7 linked regions of the Homo sapiens genome follow. The protein of the gene in region 6 purifies or fractionates together with the protein of the main gene of each other region. This does not show direct contact. Each region holds a gene or a part of one and is shown on either strand. Other genes may lie near its edges.

The links.
Region 1: the proteins of SCGN (region 6) and BBS7 purify together in Homo sapiens (affinity purification with mass spectrometry; 3 studies listed by BioGRID and IntAct, with this or other methods). This does not show direct contact.
Region 2: the proteins of SCGN (region 6) and RAVER1 purify together in Homo sapiens (affinity purification with mass spectrometry; 3 studies listed by BioGRID and IntAct, with this or other methods). This does not show direct contact.
Region 3: the proteins of SCGN (region 6) and SGPP1 purify together in Homo sapiens (affinity purification with mass spectrometry; 3 studies listed by BioGRID and IntAct, with this or other methods). This does not show direct contact.
Region 4: the proteins of SCGN (region 6) and OPA1 purify together in Homo sapiens (affinity purification with mass spectrometry; 3 studies listed by BioGRID and IntAct, with this or other methods). This does not show direct contact.
Region 5: the proteins of SCGN (region 6) and ZMYM4 purify together in Homo sapiens (affinity purification with mass spectrometry; 3 studies listed by BioGRID and IntAct, with this or other methods). This does not show direct contact.
Region 7: the proteins of SCGN (region 6) and PHKG2 purify together in Homo sapiens (affinity purification with mass spectrometry; 3 studies listed by BioGRID and IntAct, with this or other methods). This does not show direct contact.

The regions. Positions count from the first base shown.
Region 1 is NC_000004.12:121,828,975-121,832,474, reverse strand, and holds part of BBS7 (BBSome complex member BBS7), read left to right. Parts: intron 1-3,500.
Region 2 is NC_000019.10:10,323,530-10,327,029, reverse strand, and holds part of RAVER1 (ribonucleoprotein PTB-binding 1), read left to right. Parts: intron 1-3,463; coding exon 3,464-3,500. UniProt on the Homo sapiens protein: Cooperates with PTBP1 to modulate regulated alternative splicing events. Promotes exon skipping. Cooperates with PTBP1 to modulate switching between mutually exclusive exons during maturation of the TPM1 pre-mRNA.
Region 3 is NC_000014.9:63,697,066-63,700,565, reverse strand, and holds part of SGPP1 (sphingosine-1-phosphate phosphatase 1), read left to right. Parts: exon of another isoform or gene 1-1,769; intron 1,770-1,907; coding exon 1,908-1,997; intron 1,998-3,500.
Region 4 is NC_000003.12:193,638,208-193,641,707, forward strand, and holds part of OPA1 (dynamin-like GTPase OPA1, mitochondrial), read left to right. Parts: intron 1-3,500. UniProt on the Homo sapiens protein: Dynamin-related GTPase that is essential for normal mitochondrial morphology by mediating fusion of the mitochondrial inner membranes, regulating cristae morphology and maintaining respiratory chain function.
Region 5 is NC_000001.11:35,267,491-35,271,508, reverse strand, and holds the start of ZMYM4 (zinc finger MYM-type protein 4), read right to left. Parts: upstream 2,801-4,018; 5' UTR 2,463-2,800; coding exon 2,424-2,462; coding exon of another isoform or gene 2,415-2,423; intron 1-2,414. UniProt on the Homo sapiens protein: Plays a role in the regulation of cell morphology and cytoskeletal organization.
Region 6 is NC_000006.12:25,697,215-25,699,748, forward strand, and holds part of SCGN (secretagogin), read left to right. Parts: intron 1-211; exon of another isoform or gene 212-1,760; intron 1,761-2,534.
Region 7 is NC_000016.10:30,751,425-30,754,924, forward strand, and holds part of PHKG2 (phosphorylase b kinase gamma catalytic chain, liver/testis isoform), read left to right. Parts: intron 1-124; coding exon 125-179; intron 180-1,807; coding exon 1,808-1,873; intron 1,874-1,969; coding exon 1,970-2,133; intron 2,134-3,500. UniProt on the Homo sapiens protein: Catalytic subunit of the phosphorylase b kinase (PHK), which mediates the neural and hormonal regulation of glycogen breakdown (glycogenolysis) by phosphorylating and thereby activating glycogen phosphorylase. May regulate glycogeneolysis in the testis.

The sequences.
Region 1 (3,500 bases), on a different chromosome or scaffold from region 6:
CTTCTTGGGCAAGGCCAATATCTCTACCTCTACCCATTAAGCTTGGATCCTCCTGCTTCTTCAAAGTCTTTGCATTCTCATTCTCACATCTGTAGGTTGTTTTTTGTTTTTGTTTTTTTGTTGTTGTTGCTGTTTGTTTTGTTTGTTTGTTTTGAGACAGGATCTCACTCTGTCACCCAGGTTAGAGTGCAGTGGCATGATCTCGGCTTACTGCAGCCTTGACCTCCCACCTCAGCCTCCTGAGTAGCTGGGACCACAGGCATGCACCACCATGCCCAGCTAATTTTTTTATTTTCTGTAGACAGGGTTTCACCATGTTGGTCAAGCTGGTCTCAAACTCCTGAGCTCAAGCAATCCTCCTGCGTTGGCCTCCTAAAGTGCTGGGATTATAGGCGTGAGCCACCACACCTGGCCTGTAGGTTGTTTGTTTTGTGTGTGTGTGTGTGTGTGTGTGTGTGTGTGTGTTTTTGTTTTTTTTGCTTTGTGTTATTTGTCTGGGAGAGAGCTCATTATTCTTTCTCTGCCTCTGCCTCTTAAGGTTCTTTCCCTAAGCAGATTATTGTGGTTTTCTCCTAAGTTCTAAAAACTTAGCATGGTAAAGTCTCAACTAGAGAGCAAGAAGTAGAATACCTCTTGCTTCTCTTGTTATTTTAGGATAATAACAGTATTATTCTAAAAACATAATTTTACCTCAGAATTCAGCCTTTTAGAACCAAGAACTCTTCAGAAATCTAATTGGTTTTTAACATCCATTCTGTGGAGGTTTTTCACTGTACCGTCCAAGGAAGCTTATCTGTGTCTAAACCTGTAATAATTACTCCCATTTTGAAGTACCACAATGAACCTCACACATTAATCATAGCAGACAATTCAACATGCCCCTAGCATATTATATACTTTTATAATAGCAGACCTTTGCTCTTTTATCATTCTGTGTCTTTGAGTATTTTTTCTTAAGATTCAAAACTGTTTATCCTTTAAGGTCCAACTTAATAGCTACTTTTTTTTTTTTAAGAGAGTCTCACTGTGTTGCCCAAGCTGGTCTCAAACTCCTGGCTTCAAGCAATCCTCCTGCCTCAGCCTCCCCAGTAGCTGGGATTATAGGTGCAAGCTACTGCATCCTGCAGTAGCTACATTTTTGAAGCCTTCTTTGATTCTCCCTTGATTCTCTTCTCTGTTTCCATAGCATTTTTTCTTACTTGTCTGTGATATTTATTGTTATCTGCTTAAAGTATATAATAATTTTTTATTTTTTATTTTATTCTTTTTTTGAGACAGAGTCTTGCTTTGTTGCCATTCTGGAGTGCAGTGGCACGATCTTGGCTCACTGCAACCGCCACCTCCTGGGTTCAAGTGATTCTCCTGCCTCAACCTCCCGAGTAGTTGGGACTACAGGCATGTGCCACCACGCCCAGCTAATTTTTGTATTTTTAGTAGAGACTAGTTTCACCGTGTTGGCCAGGATGGTCTTGATCTCTTGACCTCGTGATCTGCCTGCCTCAGCCTCCCAAAGTACTGGTATTACAGGCATGAGCCACCAAGCCCGGCCTCTAATAATTTTTATACAAACTTATTTCTCTAAGTTAAACTTTATTTTCATGGACAGTCTAATTTTAAATATCTTTGTATGTAGCCTGCAAGGACCTAAAACATAGTTTTGCACATAATAGGTACTCAACAGATGTTTTTCGGATGCCTGAATAAAATATATGTGTATGGAGGTAGTGTAGAAGTATGTGCTTTGGAGGCAGATGTACTAATGTTTCAATCCTGGCTCTGTGACTTACCAGCTGTGTGACCCTAGCTGGTTGCTTAACTCTCTGAACTTCAGTTTTCTTTTCTGAGGAATGAAAATAATAGCACTTACTTTATTGAATTGTTATGATGATTAAAAGAAGATAACCATTTGAGTCATTCTATAGTACCTGGCACTATGTGTTTACTAAATATCATCTGTTAAGATTAAAGACTAATAGAAATGTCATGATTTCTAAAACATAATTGAGATCAAAGTAGTAAGGGTGTATTATTTATCTTTCTAGAAAAAAAAATTATCTTTTTTTTTATTTGTTTTGAGACAGGGTCTCACTCATCAGCCCAGGCTGGAGTGCAGTGTCTCAATCTCAGCTCACTGCAACCTCCTCCTCCCAGGCCCAAGTGATTCTAATGCCTTAGCCTCCTGAGTAGCTGGAATTTTAGGAGTGTGCTACCACGCCTGGCTAATTTTTGTATTTTCAGTAGAGACGGGTCTCACCATGTTGGCCAGGTTAGTCTCGAACTCCTGACCTCAAGTGATCTGCCCGCCTTGGCCTCCCAAAGTGCTGGGATTACAGGCGTGAGCCACCACAACGGACCAAAGCAATTATCATTTGCATATAGCTAGTTGGTATACATCATTTGTGTGTGTGTGAAAACCAAATGAAAAGGTAACATTAACTATATGAAAGATGATATATATTAATTAGGAAACTTGGTCATCGTAAAAAGGAACCAAATGCAAGCAGCTTAACCAAATAAAATAAATTTATCGGCTCACATAACTTAAAAGTCTAGCAGTAATCTGCCTCACGCACAACTGGATCAGTGGCTTAATTGATGTCATCAAGATTTTATCCCTTGTTCAGTTCTGCTTTTATCTTTTCTTGGCTTTACCATGCAGTGTTATGGCCACCAGCAGTTCCTAGAATCCAGTCTTACATATTTTCAGCTGCTATAGAGCTTCTCTTGCCCACTGGCTCCAATAAAAGTCCCAGGATTGAGTATCATTGTTAAGCCATGAACCACTGTGGTCAGGGGTATGGAATGTACTGCTCAATGCTTCCTCCTGAAGTCCCAGAAATAGACTGAGACCATTGCCACTGAAACTGAAGAGGGCAAGAGAAAGAGGAGTGGTACCCTAAAGAAAAATAACGATCCTGGCCGGGCGTGGTGGCTCACGCCTGTAATCTCAGTAGCTCATGCCTGTAATCCCAGCACTTTGGGAGGCCAAGGTGGGCGGATCACAAGGTCAGGAGATCGAGACCATCCTGGCCAACATGGTGAGACCCCCATCTCTACTCAAAATACGAAAACATTAGCTGGGTGTAGTGGCATGTGCCTGTAATCCCAGCTACTTGGGAGGCTGAGGCAGGAGAATCGCTTGAACCCAGAAAGTGGAGGTTGTAGTGAGTGGAGATCACGCCACTGCACTCCAGCCTGGCAACAGAATGAGACTCCGTCTCAAAAAAAAAAAAAAAAGAAAAATAATGGTCCTCTGACCATAAGCAGTGGCATTGGATGCTGAGCATGAAAAACAGCAGATGTCACTCTTTCATATTTGATATCAGATTTCTTTTAAGGATAAAGCATATAGTCACACTGTAATTTGTGTGATTACATGAAAGAAAAACATACTTATGTAAGTAAGCAATTCTAAGTGCATTTTATATATGTCTATATATGAGACTAGCTGTTGGAAATATTAGTGAAAAATGAAGATAAAAGTTGTTTAAATGAAGTTT
Region 2 (3,500 bases), on a different chromosome or scaffold from region 6:
GAGAGGCCGAGGCAGGTGGATCACTTGAGGTCAAGAGTTCAAGACCAGCCTGGCCAACATGGTGAAACCCTGTCTCTACTAAAAATACAAAAAAAATTAGCCAGGTGTGGTGGTGCAGGCCTGTAATCCCAGCTACTCAGGAGGCTGAGGCAGGAGAATCGCTTGTACCTGGGAGGTGGAGGTTGCAGTGAGCTGAGATCACGCCACTGTACTCCAGCCTGGGTGACAAAGCAACACTGCATCTCAAAAACAGAAAAAAAAAAAAAAAAAAAAACAGGCCAGGCGCAGTGGCTCACGCTTGTAATGCCAGCTCTTTGGAGGCCGAGACGGACGGATCACCTGAGGTCAGGAGTTTGAGACCAGCCTGACAAACATGGAGAAATCCCGTCTCTACTAAAAATACAACAAAAAAAAAAAGGTAGCCAGGCATGGCGCCACGCGCCTGTAATCTCAGCTACTCAGGAGGCTGAGACAGGAGAATTGCTTGAACCCAGAAGACTGCGGTTGCGGTTAGTGGAGATCGTGCCGCTGCACTCCAGCCTGGGCGACAGAGCGAGACTCCGTCTCAAAGAAACAAAAAAAACAAAAACTGAGTATCCATGAGCCACGGGAACCCCCTCTCTGTTTACTTATCATTCATCCATTCTGCTGCTTTCTCTTGGACACCTGCTACGTACCAGGCCTGCTATGTACCAGGCCGCCTGTGCGGGCTCAGGACAGAAGATGAGTTAGCACAATGGCCTCACCTTTCTTTTATTTTATTTTATATTTTTTTAAGACAGAGTCTTGCTCTGTCACCCAGTCTGGAGTGCAGGGGCGCGATCTTGGCTCACTGCATCCTCCGCCTCCTGGGTTCAAGTGATTCTCCAGCTTCAGCCTCCCGAGTAGCTGGGATGACAGCGCCTGACACCACACCCAGCTAATTTTTGTGTTTTTAATAGAGATGGGGTTTCGCCGTGTTGGCCAGGCTGGTCTTGAACTCCTGACTTCAGGTGATACACCTGCCTCGGCCTCCCCAAGTGCTGAGATTACAGGTGTGAGCCACTGCGCTGGCCTGGCCTTACCTTCTTATGTGGAGATCAAAGGTCACAGGGTCATGACCAGCTACAGGTACTCTCCTAGCCTGTTTCCACATCTCAAAATGGGGCTGGCAGTGCTTCATGATCAGGTTGTTGTGAACAGCTGCCCATTCATTCCTCCACTCGAACATTCACTAAACTTAATTTTTTTTTTTTTTGAGACAGGTTCTCAATCACCCAGGCTGGAGGAGTACACTCCGGCCTCGACCTCCTGGGTTCAAGAAATCCTCCTACCTTGGCCTCCCATGTAGCTGGGGAACTACAGGAATGCATCACCATGCCCAGCTGATTTTTAAAATTTTATGTAGAGGCCGGGCACAGTGGCTCATGCCTGTAATCCCAGCACTTTGGGAGGCTGCGGCGGGCAGATCACTTGAGGTCAGGAGTTCGAAACCAGCCTGGCCAACATGGTAAAACCCTGTCTCATGGCACGGTGGCTCACGCCTGTAATCCCAGCACTTTGGGAGGCCGAGGTGGGTGCATCACGAGGTCTGGAGATCGAGGCCATCCTGGCTAACATGGTGAAACCCTATCTCCATTAAAAATACAAAAAAAAAAATTAGCTGGGTGTGGTGGCATGTGCCTGTGGTCCCAGCTATTTGGGAGGCTGAGGCAGAAGAATCACCTGAACCTGGGAGACAGAGGTTGTGGTGAGCCAAGATCCCACTACTGCATTCCAGTCTGGGTGGCAGAGCGAGACTCCGTCTCAAAAAAAACAAAACAAAAAACAAAAACCCTGTCTCTATTAAAAATAGAAAAAAAATTAGCCAGGCGTGGTGGTAGGTGCCTTTAATCCCAGCTACTCGGGAAGCTGAGGCAGGAGAATTGATTGAACCAGGGAGGTGGAGGTTGCAGTGAGCCAAGATCATGCCACCGCACTCCAGCCTGGGCAACAGAGCGAGACTCCCTCAAAAAAAAAAAAAATTATGTGAAGATGGGGTCTCCCTATGTTGCCCAGGCTGGTCTGAAACTCCTGTGCTCAAACGATCCTCCTGCCTTTGCCTCCCAAAGAGCTGGGATTATAGATTCGAGCCACTGGGCCTGGTCTCACCAAACATTTGTTGAGCATCTGATGAGTAGCAGGCGTTGAAGTGATGTCCTCCGAGGAGCCCACCTTTAATGTTAGGTGACCCAGCTGAATGGAGGGTGGGCTTGACAGTGAAGCAGCTTGAGGTTCACACATCAGTCCCTCGACTTAGGAATTGTGTGGCCTTGATCACTCTGTGACCCCTCTGAGTCTCTCTCTGTTCATCCCTAAGATGGGTGTGTTTATGGCCGGGCACAGTGGCTCACGCCTGTAATCCAGCACTTTGGGAGGCCAAGGCAGGCGGATCGCTTGAGGTCAGGAGTTCAAGACCAGCCTTGCCGACATGGTGAAACCTCATTTCTACTAAAAATACAAAAATTAGCTGGGCGTGGTGGTGCACACCTGTAATCCCAGCTACCAGGAGGCTGAGGCAGGAGAATCACTTGAACCCAGGAGGTGGAGGTTACGGTAAGCTAAGTTCACATCACTGCACTCCGGGGTGACAGAGCAAGACTCTGTCTCAAAAAAAACAAAACAAAACAAAAGCCGACAGGTTTGGTTATGGGAGATCTGTGCCCAGACCTTGGCACAGGGCGTGGGCAGAGGTGAAGGGCTGCTACCTGCACCTTTGCTGCCCGGGCATTCAGCAAGTGCCGGTGCCCAGCCCAACCACTTCCCTTAGCACTGCTACCTGGCTTGGCCACTGTCTGGAACGAGAGCCCTTCCTTCCCCACCCGTTGCTGATTATCTCTTTTTTTTTTTTTTTTTTGAGATGGAGTTTTGCTCTTGTTGCCCAGGCTGGAGTGCAGTGGCGCGATCTCGGCCCACCGCAACCTCTGCCTCACAGGTTCAAGTGACTCTCTTGCCTCTGCCTCAGCCTCCCAAGTAGCTGGGAATACAGGCATGTGCCACCACGCCTGGCTAATTTTGTATTTTTAGTAGAGACGGGGTTTCTCCATGTTGGTCAGGCTGGTCTCGAACTCCCGACCTCAGGTTATCTGCCCGCCTCGGCCTCCCAAAGTGCTGGGATTACAGGTGTGAGCCACCGCATCCGCCCGTGGCCTTGGCTTTGTTGGTGAGGTGGCTCCCAGCTCCGCCCTCCCTCCAGCTGTGTGGCCTTGGGTGCGCTGACCTCTCCGTGCCTCAGTTGCCTTCTCTGAGAAATGGGTATGATGCAGCCTCCCAGGGTCATTGGGAAAATCAGATGAGCTGATGCAGGAATGAGGCACAGGGCAGTGGAGGCCTGGCGTGGAGTTCACCCTTATGGGGCAGCTGAGTCTGGTTACGGTTGTCACTTCCCGGGGTGGTGCAGTCACTGCTGCCCAGATGCTCATGACTGCCTGCCTTCCTCCGGCAGCTGGCGTGCGGCCAGGATGGGCAGCTGAAGGGCTTCG
Region 3 (3,500 bases), on a different chromosome or scaffold from region 6:
CAAGAATAGGAACTTATACTCCCAGAAAAGAATATAATTATTCTCCCAAGGAATATTTAGAATATAAAATTAGTAAAACTTGATTATTTGTTGAATACAACGGCTAAGGAAAGAATTAAGGATAATTCATGTTTCTCATTTGGATTACTTGGTTTTTGGTGTTTCCAAATGAAATAGGGAATATCAGAGGAGGAACAAGTGTGGGTGATATGATGATGAGTTTGGTTTGAGGTATAGTGGGTTTACTGCCATAGGGACCTCAAGGTGGAAATATGTGCAGAGTTGGATATATGGTTCTTAAACCCGGGGAAATGGGTAGGTCTTCAGCATGCCTAGTCTAGAAGTAGTTAAAAAAATAAGAAAGGGGGCCAGGTGCATTGGCTCACTGCACCTGTAATCTTAGCACTTTGCGAGGCCAAGGTGTGTGGATCGCTTGAACTCAGGAGTTTGAGATACCCATCTGTAGTCCTAGCTGCTCGGGAGGCTGAGGCAGGAGGATTGCTTGAGCCTGGGAGGTTGAGACTGCAGTGAGCCATGATTATGCTGCCGCACATCAGCCTTGGTGACAGAGTAAGACCCTGTCTCAAAAAAAAGGAAAAGGTAAGACTGTCAGTAACTACTAAGGACAGAATCCTTCTGTATACTAATGTTTAAAGAACAAAAAGAGGAAGATACGCTCTTGTGTGGGAAATGCAGCAAAAAATAAATGGTGAAAGGTGAACCAGGAGAGTATGAAGCTATGACTATCGAGGGTATTTAGAGTTTCAAGGAGAAAGTGAGGGACCATGTTAAATGTAGTAGATATGTAAAAAAAACAACAACAACCAAAAAAAAAAACAACTCTGCCTGTAGTTCCAGCTACTCAGGAGGCTAAGGCAGGAGGATCACTTGGGCCCAGGAGTTCAAGGTGTTAGTATGCTATTATCACACCTGGGAATAGCCTCAGTACTTCAGCCTGAGCAACATAGTGAGACCCTGTCTTTCTAAAAAAACAGAACAAAACAAACCACCAAAAACCAACAATTTCGTACTAAATATTTTCTACTCTTCTTACAAGCTTACTTAAGTCCCTTGCTCCTTTATTTCAACCCAACTTCCCTAACCACATTGGCTTCAATTTCATTGAGAAATTTGAAGTCATCAGGCATAAACAGCCCCAAATGTGCCCTCCCTTCTTCCCTTTACAAACTTACCACCATGCCCATCCATCCTTTCCTCTTTCCCTCCAATCTCAGGACATTCACAGCCAACTTTTCCACTAGTGCCATTGATACCAAGAATTGTCTGCACTTTCTGTTTATGCTTTTTCCCTTTTATGATTTGTGCTCCTAGTATTCCACGGAAATTTTTCTCAGTAAGGGGACCATTTGAAATTTTAGTCAATGGGGTGGAAGTGAAAAACTAAGTACAAAGTGTTGAATACTGAATGCAAGGTAGGGGAATAGCAATATAAATTGGAGATAGCAGTCACTGATGAAGTGAGAGGGAGATAATGCCAATCCTCCTCCCCAGACAACTGAAGACATTTACATGGACCAGATTCAGGTACTATTCCAGAGGCCCTTTCATTTTGGTGGCCATATTAAAAGTATGTCTCTTACCTGTCCTCCTCCTCCTATACCATGCCAGTGATTGAATCTTCATTGTAGAAGCAGAAGTGAGCCAGTTCCCACAATAAAGAATTTAGACACATGAGATTTCATTCATTTGTTCATTTGTGGAAAAGTATTTCTTGAATGTCTGCCATGTGCCATACTCAGGGTTAGGTGCTGGAAATACAATGGGGAGTAAAAACAAATTTCTTGTTTTAGTGGACTTTATAGAATAGTGATTTGATTTGTCTTTTATTTGTTTGTTTATATCTAACTTAAATTTGTTTAACTAATTTTACTTTTTTTCCCCTTTAGTACCCTCTTATATATGGACTGATTCTTATTCCCTGCTGGTGTTCTCTAGTTTGCCTAAGTAGAATTTACATGGGAATGCACTCTATTCTGGTAAGGAAAATGTTGTCTTCTTAATACTTTATTTTTTATGACATTGACAGGAAATTTTATAATTTTTAATCATTTGCAAACTTACCTGAAGCCTAAATGAGAAAATATTGTAAGTCGTCTAACTTTGTTTTGCGAAAATATCAACATGATGGTTTATGAAATATTAATGTAGTAGTCACATATTTCATAGAAACAGTTTCCAGCAATCACAATAGCCAGGTATTATAATCAAGATAACATTTCTTCCTCCTTCCAGTCTCCCTTTTATTTTCCTTTGCAGTCTTTTCTGTGTCTCTCTTATCACTGAGTCAAAACCAGCAATGTGGCTACAGAAACCAAGGAGAGCTCCTAAGTATTGTTGAAGAACTAGTGACTAGAAACTATGTGAACTTAAACTTTCCAGGGGCCATTTGTGTTTACATATTAAACTCTACTTTTCTTTTCTTTCCCATCAGTATGTTAGGACTCACAGTGGACATTGTGTTTTGAGAATGCAATTCGGTTCCCAAAGCAGCAGCACAGGGACCCTGTACTATTTGCAGCCACACCCATTCACTTTCCCTCCTCGCTATCCCTATTGACACCCCCTTAGCTCTGGCCTGCAACATATCTTGACCAGATTACTGTGATAGCATCTTAATTAGTAGCCAACTTCCAGTTTGACACTGCTCCACTAGCATTCAGCTGTTTCGTAGACTTTCCAAAACACAAATACGATGCTATACTGAATTATTAGGTTTCCTCCAATGCAAAGGGTTTCTTACCTCCATAACTTTACAAATGCTGTAACATTTACTTGGAATGCCCCTTTCACTTTCTTTACCTTAACTATCCCATTCATTCTTCAAGACTCACTATAGATATTCTTAACCCCTCAAAGCCTTATTACCTTCCCCATCTTCTCTTTCTCAAGACTTGTGAGGTGACCCTTCCCCACTTATCCTAAATTGCAATTGCTTTTTTCCTTATCTGTCAAGTATACTAGACTCCAAGTTCCTTGAGAACAGCAACTGTGTGTTTTAACTCTACCTTTAGTATCCAACATGGTGTCTCATGAGGCATCTATGAATGAATTATGTATTATCATGGAGATAAAGGATCACAAAAAAAGGTGGAAGAATTCATGGAATTCTAGTTTCTAATGGGTCATGTCAGTTTTTTTCTTGTCCTTAACATGTTACCATTTTTAGAATTTTTTTTCTCATATTATTTCATTCTCTTATTTCTTAGTTATAGAAATGTTGGTTTCTATCTCAAATTTCTTGCTTCCAGCACCTGCTCCTTCACAGATAAATTTCCAGAAGTCCCAAACACTATTTTATTTTGTTGGGAGGCAGTGTGTGCTGTAATTTTGGGGTTGGTCATTGTTTCTAGGTTTTTTTAAATTTTAATTTTAGATTCAAGGGGTACATAAGCAGATTTGTTTGCAAAGGTATATTGTGTGATGCCAAGATTTGGACGTCTATTGATCCTGTGACCCAGATGGTGAACATAGTACCCAAC
Region 4 (3,500 bases), on a different chromosome or scaffold from region 6:
GTAGAAGGCACAGCCAGGAGGCCAGTGTGGCAGGAGCTGAGTGAGGGGAGAGTGGTAGGAGAGGATGACAGAGACCCAGTTGGGAGGCCTTTGGATTTTATTCTGAATAAGATAAGAGAGAAGTTAAGAGAATGAGAATATTGGAAGTGGAGTCAATGAATATAGATAATTTTCTAGTTTTATTGTGACAAAAGAGCAGAGAAATGAAGCAGTAGCAATTGAATATTGTTGAATTAAGGGAAGGTTTTTAACCCTTTTCCTGTTTAGAAAAAAAGTGCAGCTCAACACCAGTGCTCATTTAATTTTACGTAAACACACTCTCTGAAGCTGAAGCAAATCTGACTAATTTTCAATGTGAAAATAAAATATAAAAACTGTTCTTAGAGTTATTTCTAAACAGTACTAACATCAGAATCGTCCCAATCATCAGAATGTCTGTTTTTTAAAAGTCAGATTTATCAAATCAATCTTCGGCCAACAACTTTTTGAGAATGATGTAAACATCACACATAGGAATTCCGCATTTTCTAGGATTTGACATTTTCAGCTATTGAAAATTACTATATTTTGTAAATGGACGTACCGCTACTAAAAACAGAATGCTTGAAATAGAATGTCTTTTGTTTCCAAAGTCAGTACACTAGAGCTATGTGAAAATAATCATAAAAGTGAAGATATTTTATGGCAGAGTTATGTTGGGGCAAATGCTGCAGCTGCAAGCGGTGCTGGCAAATATTGTCGGAGCAAGTGGGAAAAGGATTAAAGATGTTTATATGCTGATTATAATGATCTAATAAAGGGGGGAAATGATGCAAGAGAGAGGGAAAATTGCAAGAGCAAAGTTACTGAGGTGAAGGAGATTGTGACTTGGTGTACTAGTCCATATCTGGGAGCACTGACAATTTCTCCAGGGTCACAGGAAGAAGGTATGGGGCTGCAGAGTCTTTCATTGAACAGATATTTACGGAATGCTTAATATGTACCAGTAGCATTCTAGGCAATATGTTGGTAAACAGCAACAACAAAGAAGAACCTTGCCTTAATGGAGGGTATGTTCTAGTAGAGGGAGACAGATAATAGATAATAAATATAATACATAATTGTATAGTAGGTTAGAAGGCAATAGTGTTGTACAACAAGAAAAAGCAGAACCAGGCAAGGAGAATGAGGGTGCCAGAGTATTCATAGATTGCATTGATAAGGTGGCATTTGAACCAAGATTTGCAGAAAGTGAGGGAGTAGTCCTGAGGATATCCTGTGTTCAGCAAGGAGAATAGCTGATGCAAAGCCTCTGAGGTGGTTGTGTGGCTGTCATGTTCAAGGAACAACAAAGAGGCCTGTGTGGTCAGGTCGGGGTGAAGAGCTAGCCATGGTCGGGGCAAATGATGACATTAGAGGAATAATGAAGAGCGGGGAGGAACAGATCAATAAGGCCTTATAGGCCATTGTACAGACTTCCGTTTTAAGTAAAATGGAAAGCCAGTGCAGGATTTCGAGCAAAGTAACAAAAGTGCCTTTTAAAAGGCTGCTCTTTTGAAAATAGTTGTAGCCAAGATGTAGAACCAGGGAGTCTAGGCTACTGGAGTATCCAGGTGATACTTGGGCTAGGGAAGTAGCAGTGAAACTGGTAAGAAATGGATAGATTATAAATGTGTTTTGAAAGTAGAATTAACAGGATTTCTTGACAGGTTTGATATGGAGAGGGGAGAGAAGAAAAGCAATGGGGAGAGAGAGAGAGAGTGTCAATCATCAATGATGCCTCCAGGGTCTTTAGCCTGAACAAATTGAAGGATGTAGTTTGCATGGAAGTCTGTCAGTGGATCAGGTTTGGGGGAAGAAGATCAGGAGTTCAGTTTTGGACTTGCTGAGTGGTGATAACAAGCAGTTGGGTATACAAGTTTAGACAGAGGTGTGGGCCAGAGACATACATTTAGGAGTCATGATCAACTATCTAAAAGTAGTATTTAAAGTCATGATCTTACTGGAGAAGATCTTCAAGGGAGTGAGTAGAGATAGAGAAAACACAGAAGCAAGCAGTATATTCTGGGCACTCTGAACATTAAGATGTTGAGGGAAGAGAAAATAACAAAGGAATGTGTGAAGGCCCAACCAGTATAGTAAGAGGGAAAGCAGAGCAGGACAGTGTGCGCAAAGTCAGGTAAACAAAAAGAAAACATGGAGGAGGAGGGAGTGCTCAGTGAGGTCACATGCTGCTGATCCATCAAGGAAGGTGAACATAGAAACCAGTCGTTGAGTTCACCAGTGGAGGCAAGAAAGGGGAACGTGTGGAAGTTTCCTTCTGATTGCTTCCGCTTACTCAGTGAAATACTAAGCCAGATGATCAGCTGTTAATTAGAAAGGAGAAGAGATTAAAGACTGAGGCAGGAAGAAAAAGTGAAGTCTGTTAACAGATCGTGGTGACTCTAGGAGTGAATCAGTGGAGAAAGTCAAGTGATATTAGGATTACTGAGGTGGACTGAAGTCCCTTTAAGTTCTGTGGACATAAATTTTAAATGAATCATTATGATTGTGTTTTGTTTTTTTCATGTTTAGCTGGTGGGGGGTAGGTGTAGAATAATTGGAAGATTGAAATTACCAAGAATTATGGCAAGAATAGTGGGAGAAAGACAGTGAGGCTGATGCTGAAATCTTCAAGAAATGAAATCTGTTTACAAGTGCAACAGGGTATGGGCAGCCTAGTGTGATTCATCTAGATTGCACTTTTGTGGGTCTAGCTATGGATTGAATCGTGTTATGTGTTACTAGTTCTGTGTGTGGTACTGTGTGACTGTACCAGACTTTACATATCCATTTTACTACCGATGGGAATTTGGGGTACATCTAACCTAGAGAAAAAAACAAAATGAACCTCAGACTACACCTCATATCCTGTTCAATAATCAGTTGTAAAAACATGGGAGAGAAACCTACCTTTTACATTGTTACTAGCATCCTAATTGTAGAAGCTGTGGATGATACTTCAAGAAGAAATTAATTTTGTTTTGGCAGGCAGGGTGTGGACAGGTTTCCTTGAAACAGATGAGGCTGGTCTCTTTCCGGTTTGTCATTAGTCCCTTAGTGTTTACTAGAGCTTCTCCTTGACCAACCCTGAATTCCAGTTTTTTGTTTCCCTAGAGCAGTGAAAGTGCCAAAACCCCAGCTTAGCATTTTAACCTCCTTAGCAGCTTCTTTCTGCTTGGTTTCCTAAAATGTGAATGCCGTGAAAGGAAATTGTGCGCAGGATGTAGGGTTTTGTTTTGTTTTGGAGGTTTATTTCTGCAGTTCATTTTTCTTTGGGATTGTGGCACCTTAAGACGTGACTACTTAATAACTCGGAATTCCAATCTTGTCTACTCAACCCAGTGAAACTGCTACACATTTTAAGTTTTTCTCTTGGGCCTTTGCCCTGTGCTACAAATCAGCAAATCCTCTGATGGAAAATAGCTAAACAGCTTTCCAACAGCTGTTTATTGTTTTTAAATTTAGCCTGTTTAGCTAAT
Region 5 (4,018 bases), on a different chromosome or scaffold from region 6:
ATTAATTGAACCCGGGAGGCGGAGGTTGCAACGAGCCGAGATTGCGCCACCGCACTCTAGCCTGGGCAACAGAGCAAGACTCTGTCTCAAAAATAATAATAATAATAAAGTTTTTACTGCTACCAGTATGGTATCTTTTTTTTTTTTTCCAGCATTCCTTTAGCAGAAGATTCACAAGACCAGTAACATCTTTTAAGTGTACGACAAGAGGCAGAATATATTTAAAATCTAGTTGAATTTGTTGTCAACACACATCAATGTTTTCTAGAATATCCTAGAACATCCTAGTACAGAAGGTGAATGACAACATTCACAGCAACTGGATGCAGAAATCTCCCTGAATTAACATTACATATCTTAAGTAATTTACCCTGTATATTTTCATTGGTGGACTATATGCCATATGCCTTCATCCAAGCACAGTAAGGATCTAGTTCAAAACTGAACACAACTTGAAAATTTTAAAATTTCAAAACACATGCATTCCATACACAACATTTATACTTACAAAACTATTTGGACATACCATCATACAGCTTAACTTGCTCTATGACTAATTATTGCATTAGGTGAATCCAACATTTCGTAAACTTATCAATGGTAAAAATTTATTGTTCAAAACACTACGATGAAATGCATTAAAATAACACGACTGATGAACAGAAAGAGGGATAGAGGGGTAAATATATGATAAAACAAGTGGAATGCAATTTTTTTTTTGGAGGGGGTTTTGAGACAGTGCCTCCCTCTGTCACCTAGGCTAGAGTGCAGTAGCACGATCTCGGCTCACTGCTACCACCGCCTCCCTGCTACCACCGCCTCCCAGGTTCAAGCGATTCCCCTGCCTCAGCCTCCCGAATAGCTGGGATTACAGGCACCCGCCACCACGCCGGGTTAATTTTTTGTATTTTTAGTAGAGACGGGGTTTCACCATGTTGGCCAGGCTGGTCTCGAACTCCTGGCCTCAAGTGATCCTGCCGCCTCGGCCTCCCAAAGTGCTGGGATTACAGGCGTGAGCCGCTGTGCATGTCCGGAATGCAATGTTAACAGTAGGATCTAGGCGGTTGGGTGTATGACTGCTCCCCGTAAGTTTTATAATATTGACGGATAGTTCAAAATATTTTCCTAATAAATTGTTGGAAAAAATAATACTTGACACTTCTTTGGTCATTTACAATTTAAGCTTTTAAGGAGAGAAACACAGATTAAAGAAACTCCTCTGTGGCATCCCACACAGGCACTATAGTTGGGACAAACCTGGATTCAAATCCTACCTCAACCTTGCAACTAGCTGTGTGATCTAAGTAAATTACTTAAGCCCTCAACACCTAAATTTCCTCATCTGCAAATAGGTTCTAGGAGGAGTTACTATGAAGTTAAATTCTTCACATAAAGGTCTTAGCTCAGTGCCAGGCACACAGTAAGCACTCAAAACATCAGCTGTAGCATCATTACGAGATTACTAATTTTACGCTAAGCTGAAAGGGCATTCTTCATAAAGTAGTAATTTTTTGCCCTTTTGCTAATTGATCGTTTCTGAAACCATTCCCAAAAGGAAGACTCCTAAAAGGAAACTTACTTCTTATCATGCTAAGCGGGGAGGAAGTAAAAGAAAAGTGAGGGATATTGCTCAATCGATAGTACAGTATTGTTCGCCATCTGAAAAAAACCACTCAGAATTAAATAAGGAAAGTTTCCAGACAAACTTTAAAAGGTATTCAAACAACTCCTATGTAGAATTGGCTTCACCTCTGCAGGTTGATTGGGTACATCCCTGTTATGAGAAAACTTGTCGTATTCTTCCAAGTCCCTAATTGCGAGTAAGAGGCTAGGCTAGAACATGACATTCATAGTAGCCAAAATCTTTCTCCTAAATCAGGACATGCCAACGATCCCACTTCTTCACAGGTAAGACCACCACCCCGACTTTGGTCTAGATAACGGCTATGGGGGGAGGGGAAAGGAGGCAGGAAAATGAATTCGCGATGGTGTTACTGAAGAACCCTCCGGTTATTTCTCCTGAGACCCCTCCACGACTTATTCCCGCCACCACCACCCCCACCTGACCTCTCCCCAGTTAACTTCCAGACTCTGATGTACTAAAGATGCACTAAAGATGCACTTAAGAATCTGACACCTCCCCTCCCTGGGCCTAGATATCCCACCCCAGTGCTGGGGAACGTCGGGGGGAGGAAGGCAAACAACGGCCCCCTCCCCTCCCCCCCACCCAGCACCAAATCTTTGTCCCACCTGCCGAGGGACCGCTCGCCAGCGCGCTCCGGACCCAAGGCTGCCTCAGACCTGCCCGCAACCTTGTCCTAACTGGGCCTCGGCGACCCCTCCACGAACCTGAGTATGGCCCATTCCCGGCCCCGGGCCGCGCCCCGCCCCCCGCCGCCCGAGTTCTGCCTCACCTCACCTACCCTCTTTCGGGGGCCGGACTCCACCTCTCTCTCCGCCATGTTGGGCCCCGCTCGGAACCGCTGCGGCTCCCCGCGCGGTGGCGGCGGTACCTCTCGGCCCCCCGGCCCCCGCCCACACTGCAGGCACGGCCGCCTCGCGGCAGCTTCCCCGGACCCGGCCGGGCCTTGCGCCGAGAGTGGGGAGGGGGCGGATGCCGCGCGCCGGGCCGCAGCTTCTGAGATCCCACGGGTCCGCGCGTGGGCGGGAGGGCCTGCCCGGGGACGGGGTGGGGGCCGGGACTCGGGGGGTTAATGGCCTCCAAGGGGCCCCGTGAGTAGGATTATTTTCTCTCAGAGAAATTCCTCCGCCTGCGGTTTCTTAAAGGGATCACCAAATCAGCCCCTTGCGCGCGCCCCTGATGCGCAGGCGCACCCTAAGTCCCTCCTTCCTTTCCCACCAAGCCCCCGGTCCTGAGCGTGCGCGGTAAGTGGCCATGGGTAGGCCAAATCCTGCAAGTCTCTTTGCTGCCAGCAGCTGCTCCCACCACTCAACTATGGCCGCTCCCTTAAAGGGACCATGACGCAGGGATGAAGGAGAAATGAAAGAAATTACTGGAAAGACAATCTGGAGAATTGGGTGCAATGTCAGTGAAGGGTTCCACATCACCATCTTACACCTGACTACAGTGGTACCATTGAAGAGGGAAAGTCATGGTAAGCTGAAGTTCTCAGTGGACCTCTGAACATGAAGAATCCCAAACCAATGAGGGAACAAGACAGTCATCTCAAGGAAAACCAACTTTCCTCCCTTTCGACTGCCTGTTCTGAAGCACAAGGCATAGAATATCAAGAGCCAACTCCTATAACCTCACCTTAAAATCAAAGCTTTTGGTGATTTTGAAGATTGAACCAACAACTGGAAATAATTTCTTCAATAGTAATTTATCCTTAGAACATCAAAATGGAGAAGGATCTTAGGGAACCATTTACTCCAGTGCTCCCAATGATAAAATTGCAGCCTGATCATGGGAAGGAATTTGTCCCAATGTAACTAATGGCTGGTGTGGAGTTGGAATCAAGATTACAGTCTCAGTCCTCCAGGCTGTCTTCAGGCGAGAGATAAATTTGGTTTAATTTGATATCCCTAGAAGATTAAAAATTGAAGTTTCATGGTATTTGGAGAATATCATAATTCTCTTGTGAAGATGTAATGATTTGCAGATGATGGGTGTCCTCATTCACCTCTATTGAAGGAGCTTGACAATCTGCCTTAAAGGATAAGCATCTTATTTCTAAGCAGGAAACCAGGAAGTAGATTTGGGTCTATCTTGTTCCAAAACTGGGTCCTAAGCTGAAAATCGCTGAAAAGAATGAGGGCTTCATTCATTCCTCTTCTGTTCATTCTAGTTCCCACAAGCTTTGGGTGCAGAAAAAATTAAGTTTATAATGATAGTTCAGGGACAGTGGGGAGACATATAGTAAGAAATACAAAGAAGATGCCTCCTGAAGGTCATTTCCCATGACAAGACATATTCAAGTGGGAATGATAACTCCTGAAGTCACAGGATAATGAGATGTAACTTCTGTTTTCTGTTTTATTTAGCACTTGGTAGCTA
Region 6 (2,534 bases):
GGTAGAGACCTGGACAGATATCTTAAGCAATAATGTCTTAACTTCTGCCTGTCGCCTCAATGTTTTCAAACACCAGTGTGGCCAATAAATAGCAAACTGGAGACAGAAAACATGTTGTAATTTTGCATGGTTACAGAATAAGGTTCTGGTTAATTAAATATTTTGATTGGTAGAGAATTATTTTAAGTGGGTTACAATAAAATGCACTTACCATCAGTGAAACTCTAATTCAGTTCCTCTAGTGGTCAGAATATGGTCCAGTGTTGGAGTCATGATGACTCTAGGATAGAGATTTGTGAAGTGCTGGTTAACAGAAGGCTTGGATATGAACTTTAATTATTTTAAGAGAATTGGAATGTACAGGAAAGGGTAGGTGTATGACAAAAACAGGAAGGCTGCATTTGAGGATAGTCATTCACTAATTTCATAGATATAATTGAGCACCTACTATGGGCAAGAATTGGGAAGAGAAGGCCAGCCCCAAAGGTCCCCCTATTGCCAAGATTAAAGGGAGACAGGTCAGCATTTTTCAATCAATTTTATTTCAGATCCACTCTCACACTGTCCTATGAGATGAAAGAGGAAAAAGTTACATTTTTACATGAAAGATTATGATACAGTGTAGTGATAAAAAATATACACTTTGGGACCTGACTGCCTGGATTTGTATCTTGGTTCTGACATGTGTCAGCTGTGTGACAGTGGGCAAGTTAATTAACCTCTCTGTGCTTTAGTTTACTCATCTATAAATTAATGATGAAAGTAGATACAACCTCCTAGGGTTGTTCTGAAGATTAGAGTTAATATATTTAGAGCTCTTACCTCAGGAACCTATCTGCACTTATATTAGTCACTTGTTATAAAAACTGTTGTTAAGACTGAGGCTCTAAAGGTTTCTGGTGATTTGTCTTCAGTGACACGTGCATTTTTGAGCTGTGGCATTTAGGTCTCCTGACTCATATTGAGTTGCCCAATATTAAAAACATAACTCAAAAGGTCCAAAGGAACTTCCTTTACATACATCCACATTCATTCCCACATCCCCTAATACACATGCATTCATACACCAAAAATATTTTCTACTCACTTGAAGGAAATAATTACTATGGTGGGAAACAAAGTCCATTATTCTTCAATTAGAAAACAAAACAAAACAAAACAAAAACAAACTTAGAATAGTTTGAATGAGGTAAATACATTGGCAAATTAATTCACACTAATGTGTAAATGACTACCACTTGAGTATTTTCTAATAATGGGATTTGCCAAAAGGATCCTGGGGCCGTTTAGTGGAGAAAAGTTTTACCAACAAGTCACTGAAGATGCTGAAAAGCAAACATCCCCACATTGCACTGTACAACAAATGAACTCCCACCAGGGGGTCTCAGAATGCAGCCTGCTGTTTTCAGGACCTCTGAGCCACATTTCCTTGGGCCACATCTATACTTGCCTGGTACTGGCAGAGAACTACAAGAGAACCTATTGACAAGGTCGAGTTACATTGTGGCCTCAGAGTCTAATCATTCAGGCCACTCTCCACAGAAGAGTGAAGTTGATCAAGTTTATCTTCTGGTCCCAGACTTTCAGCTCCTGATATCTCTCTGAATACCAGGCCTACTCTGGTGTTTATTTTTCCTGCTCTGCCATCTGGCTCCCAATTTCTGTTGCTCTTTCCTCCTTCCTCCTATTTTAAACCTGCTATCAATAATAGATTTGGTGTCAGTCATTTACCCCATTGGACAGTGCAAATTAACGAGTCTTAACGTGGCTTGGCTAGTTAAGGAACAATTTTTTTTTCTTCCCCTACTGATGATGTTTTTAGTGATTTTGTTTTTGGAAGCAAGAAAACCTTGGGGCAGGGTTGGGTAATGGAGAGTGCTTCCCAGAGCCCCTGAAATCAAACCTGCGGGTCGCTGCCTTCTCTATTCACTCATAAAACTACTCCAGTAATCAAGGGGCTTGGAAATTTGACTAAATTTGTTTTTTGTTTTTCTCTCTGTACATTGACTTTTAAATTTAGATTTGTGAACAGAAGTTTTCTGAAAAGGAATTTGGTGGAAAGGCTTTATTCCCGTTAATAGTTTGAAAACGGGACTGGGCACAATGGCTCAGGACTCTAATCCCAGCACTTTGGGAGGCCGAGGCAGGTGTGTCATCTCAGGTCAGGAGTTTGAGATCAGCCTGGCCAACATGGTGAAACCCTGTCTCTACTGAAAAAATACAAAATTAGCCGGGTGTGGTGGTGGGCACCTGTAATCCCAGCTACTTGGGAGGGTGAGGCTGGAGAGTTGCTTGAACCTGGGAGGCGGAGGTTGCAATGAGCTGAGATGGCACCACTGCACTCCAGCTTGGTGACAAGACTGAAACTCTGTCTCAAAAAAAAAAAAAAAAAAAAAGAAAAGAAAATGGGAAAATGGAGGACACACTTTTCAGTGTAAACCAGGGTGCAGAGAACAAAAGGGGGTTTGGATTTTACAAAGTCAGTGCCCACCCATGTTGCCAGTTAGTTCTGTTTGTGCAAATAAAGGATTCAA
Region 7 (3,500 bases), on a different chromosome or scaffold from region 6:
GCCTCCTCTGGTTCTCCTTTCTTCCCAGTAACAGCCCGCTGCTGTCCCAGGGTGGCCAAGCCCCGTTAATGTGCATCCACTCCTTTCCATCTCTGTCTCTCTGCCTCTCTTCCTCTCTCCCTAGTCACCCTCATCGATTCCTACGAGTCTTCTAGCTTCATGTTCCTGGTGTTTGACCTGTGAGTATCTCCCTGCCACCATCTGAGAAGCCTCCTCCCCACCTCCATGTATGGCCCAGCATTTGTGGTGCAGTGGGCTGGACCCATCCTGCTCACACCTTCCTGTTCCAGCTGGGGCTCTCTATCACCTGGGCCTGCCTGCTAGCGCATGGCTCTGGCCTTCTCCCTTGGTGCCATGATTGAGGCAAATTCTTTAATAGTGACTAGTGGCTGGGTGCAGTGGCTCACGCCTGTAATCCCAGCACTTTGGGAGGCCGAGGCGGGTGGATCATGAGGTCAGGAGATCGAGACCATCCTGGCTAACACAGTGAAACCCCATCTCTACTAAAAATACAAAAAATCAGCCGGGCGTGGTGGTGGGCGCCTGTAGTCCCAGCTACTCGGGAGGCTGAGGCAGGAGAATGGCATGAACCCGGGAGGCGGAGCTTGCAGTGAGCCCAGATTGCGCCACTGCACTCCAGCGTGGGCGACAGAGTGAGACTCCATCTCAAAAAATAAAGTAATAGTGACCAGCCAGACGTGGTAGCTCATGCCTGTAATCCCAGCATTTTGGGAGGCTGAGGCAGGTGGATCACCTGAGGTTAGTAGTTTCAAGACCAGCCTGGACAACATGGCGAAACCCCGTCTCTACTAAAATACAAAAAATTGGCCAGGCATGGTGGTCGGTGCCTGTAATCCCAGCTAATCGGGAGGCAGGAGAATTGCTTGAACCCGGGAGGCGGAGGTTGCAGTGAGCTGAGTTCGTGCCATTGCACTCCAGCCTGGGTGACAGAGCGAGACTCTATCTCCAAAAAAAAAGAGAGTGTTCAGCAGTGGACTGACCACTTAGAAAATAGATCCTCACTCACCAGCCTCTCGCGCTGCTTAACACGCTAACTATTCTGGTGTCTGTCTCTGCCCATCAGTTCTTTTTCTGGTCAGAATCTGAATGTCCGATGCAATTGGTATAATGCAAACCAACTGCAAAGGTATTTTGAAAGAGAATGATTTGAATTCCAAAGATTTAAAAGAGGCCCTTGGAAAAAATTCATGAAGGCTTCGATATATTTACAGAAATGGCCCTCTGCAAAAGTCAGAGGGGACGTAAGGATGTCTATTATGCCATCCTGCAGCCATGCAGAGTGCCTACACTCCCCAAAACAGCACCTGATAATGTTACTTTGAGGACTGATGCAGAGTGCAAGTATAACCTCAATTTTGAAAGTATTATTTTTAATTGACACATAATTATAACCTCAGCTTTTAAAGACGAAACTTCAAAATAAGGTCCTATTCAACCTTTGTGCCACAAAAAACTGAAATTTTGGTCCATTTTCTTTATAGATTCACTTTGAGAGGCCTTTTTCAGGCATAGTTACTCTCAACAAGAACCTCCTATAAATTATATTGTCACAAGAAGTCTCTTATTTTTGCCATAATTGCCCCATCATGGCATAATGCAGGTATTTCAGCTGCCAACACACCAGGCCAAACTGCCTTGTTGGAGTGCTGTGTTTCTAGACCCTTTGGTTTGTCTGCAGAGATCTATCTTTAGTGGCCTCTTCCACAATATTTTGTATGAGCACTGGTCTGTTTTCTCAGCCCCCACTGTGGGATGCAGCTGCCTCCTATGCCCCTCCTTCCCTTAGGATGCGGAAGGGAGAGCTGTTTGACTATCTCACAGAGAAGGTGGCCCTCTCTGAAAAGGAAACCAGGTAAGGGTTGAGCCTGAAGCCCCAGGGGTGAGCAGGGGGTGGGACAGGGCAGGGAGGAGCCGAGGAGGAGACTGCACCCGCCTCCCCTTCCCCCAGGTCCATCATGCGGTCTCTGCTGGAAGCAGTGAGCTTTCTCCATGCCAACAACATTGTGCATCGAGATCTGAAGCCCGAGAATATTCTCCTAGATGACAATATGCAGATCCGACTTTCAGATTTCGGGTTCTCCTGCCACTTGGAACCTGGCGAGAAGCTTCGAGGTGAGGGGATCTAGTGCCCTAATAGGCTTGGGAGGGGAGACCCAGGCCTGATGAGATTGGTTGGCTGGGTCTGAGTACCAAGTCCCTGGTGCCAAGAAAAAGGGAGAAGTCATTGGGCACTTGCCAAGTATCCTGTGGGCGCAAAGCCTATGTTTACCTCAGAGTGGGCATCCTGACCTGGGAGGATGGAGACAGACAAGCAGGCAGACAGACAGTGGTGCACAGTGGGCAGAGGGCCAGGCCAGGGGAACCCGGAGGAAGGAACGCCAATTCAGCCTGAGCCCCATAGAGGAGGTAAAAAAGGGAGCCACATGTTCAGCCACGTTTGGGGTCTGGAGTGCAGGACCACAAGAGCCTGATGTGATGTGTCCAGACTGCACTTCCCACCTGGGCCCTGGGCCTCAGGTTCACCTGATGTGAATACAGTTGTTGTGACAGGAATGTTTCTACTGCAAATGGGAAACTTCAAATAAAATTCACCTGTGGGATTCTTCAGAGCCTTTAGTCTGCCACTGACTCTCTCCCTCAATGGTTTGTACTAGACTTATGAAAAGCTACCGTTTACTGGGCATTCACCTGTGAGGCAGGCACCAGTCTTTTTTTTTCTTTTTTCTTTTTTTTTTTTTGAGACAGAGTCTCACTCTGTCACCCAGGCTGGGATGCAGTGGCATGATCTTCACTCACCGAAATCTCCACCTCCTGGGTTCAAGCTATTCTTCTGCCTCAGCCTCCCAAGTAGTTGGGATTACAGGTGCCCACCACTACGCCTGGCTCATTTTTGTATTTTTAGTAGAGATGGAATTTCACAATGTTGGCCAGGCTGGTCTTGAACTCCTGACCTCAAGTGATCCTCCTGTCCCAGCCTCCAGAAGTGCTGGGATTACAGGTGTGAGCACTGTGCCTTGTCGGCACCAGTCTTTATATGGCTTATTCCCCTAAATCCTCTCCACAGCCCTGTGTGACAGACAGTATTTGTGTCTCTTTTTTTATAGATTGGCTCAAAGAGGTGAGATGACTGCTCTAGGGTCCTAATGCTAGGATTTGAACTTGGACAGTCTGACTCCAGAGTTAATACTCTTAACCTGTGGACCCACATGTCTGGTGGATGTTGTACTTTAAAACCCTTTGGCTTCCACATGTACTTTTCCCGTTTGTGGAATCATCTTTGCCTCTGCCCACTGCATCCTCTCCTTGGCTTGGGTAATTCAGGCTTCACTTTAAACCTCCAGGGCAGCTTAGGTCCCCTTGCTTTCTGTTCTCCCATCTTCTTCATTCACAACACGTCTTACTGTATTGTTATTTCTCACTTGCCTTCAGGTAGACAGTGAGCTCGGTAAGGGCTCATCTCATTTGCCACTTGGCAAATC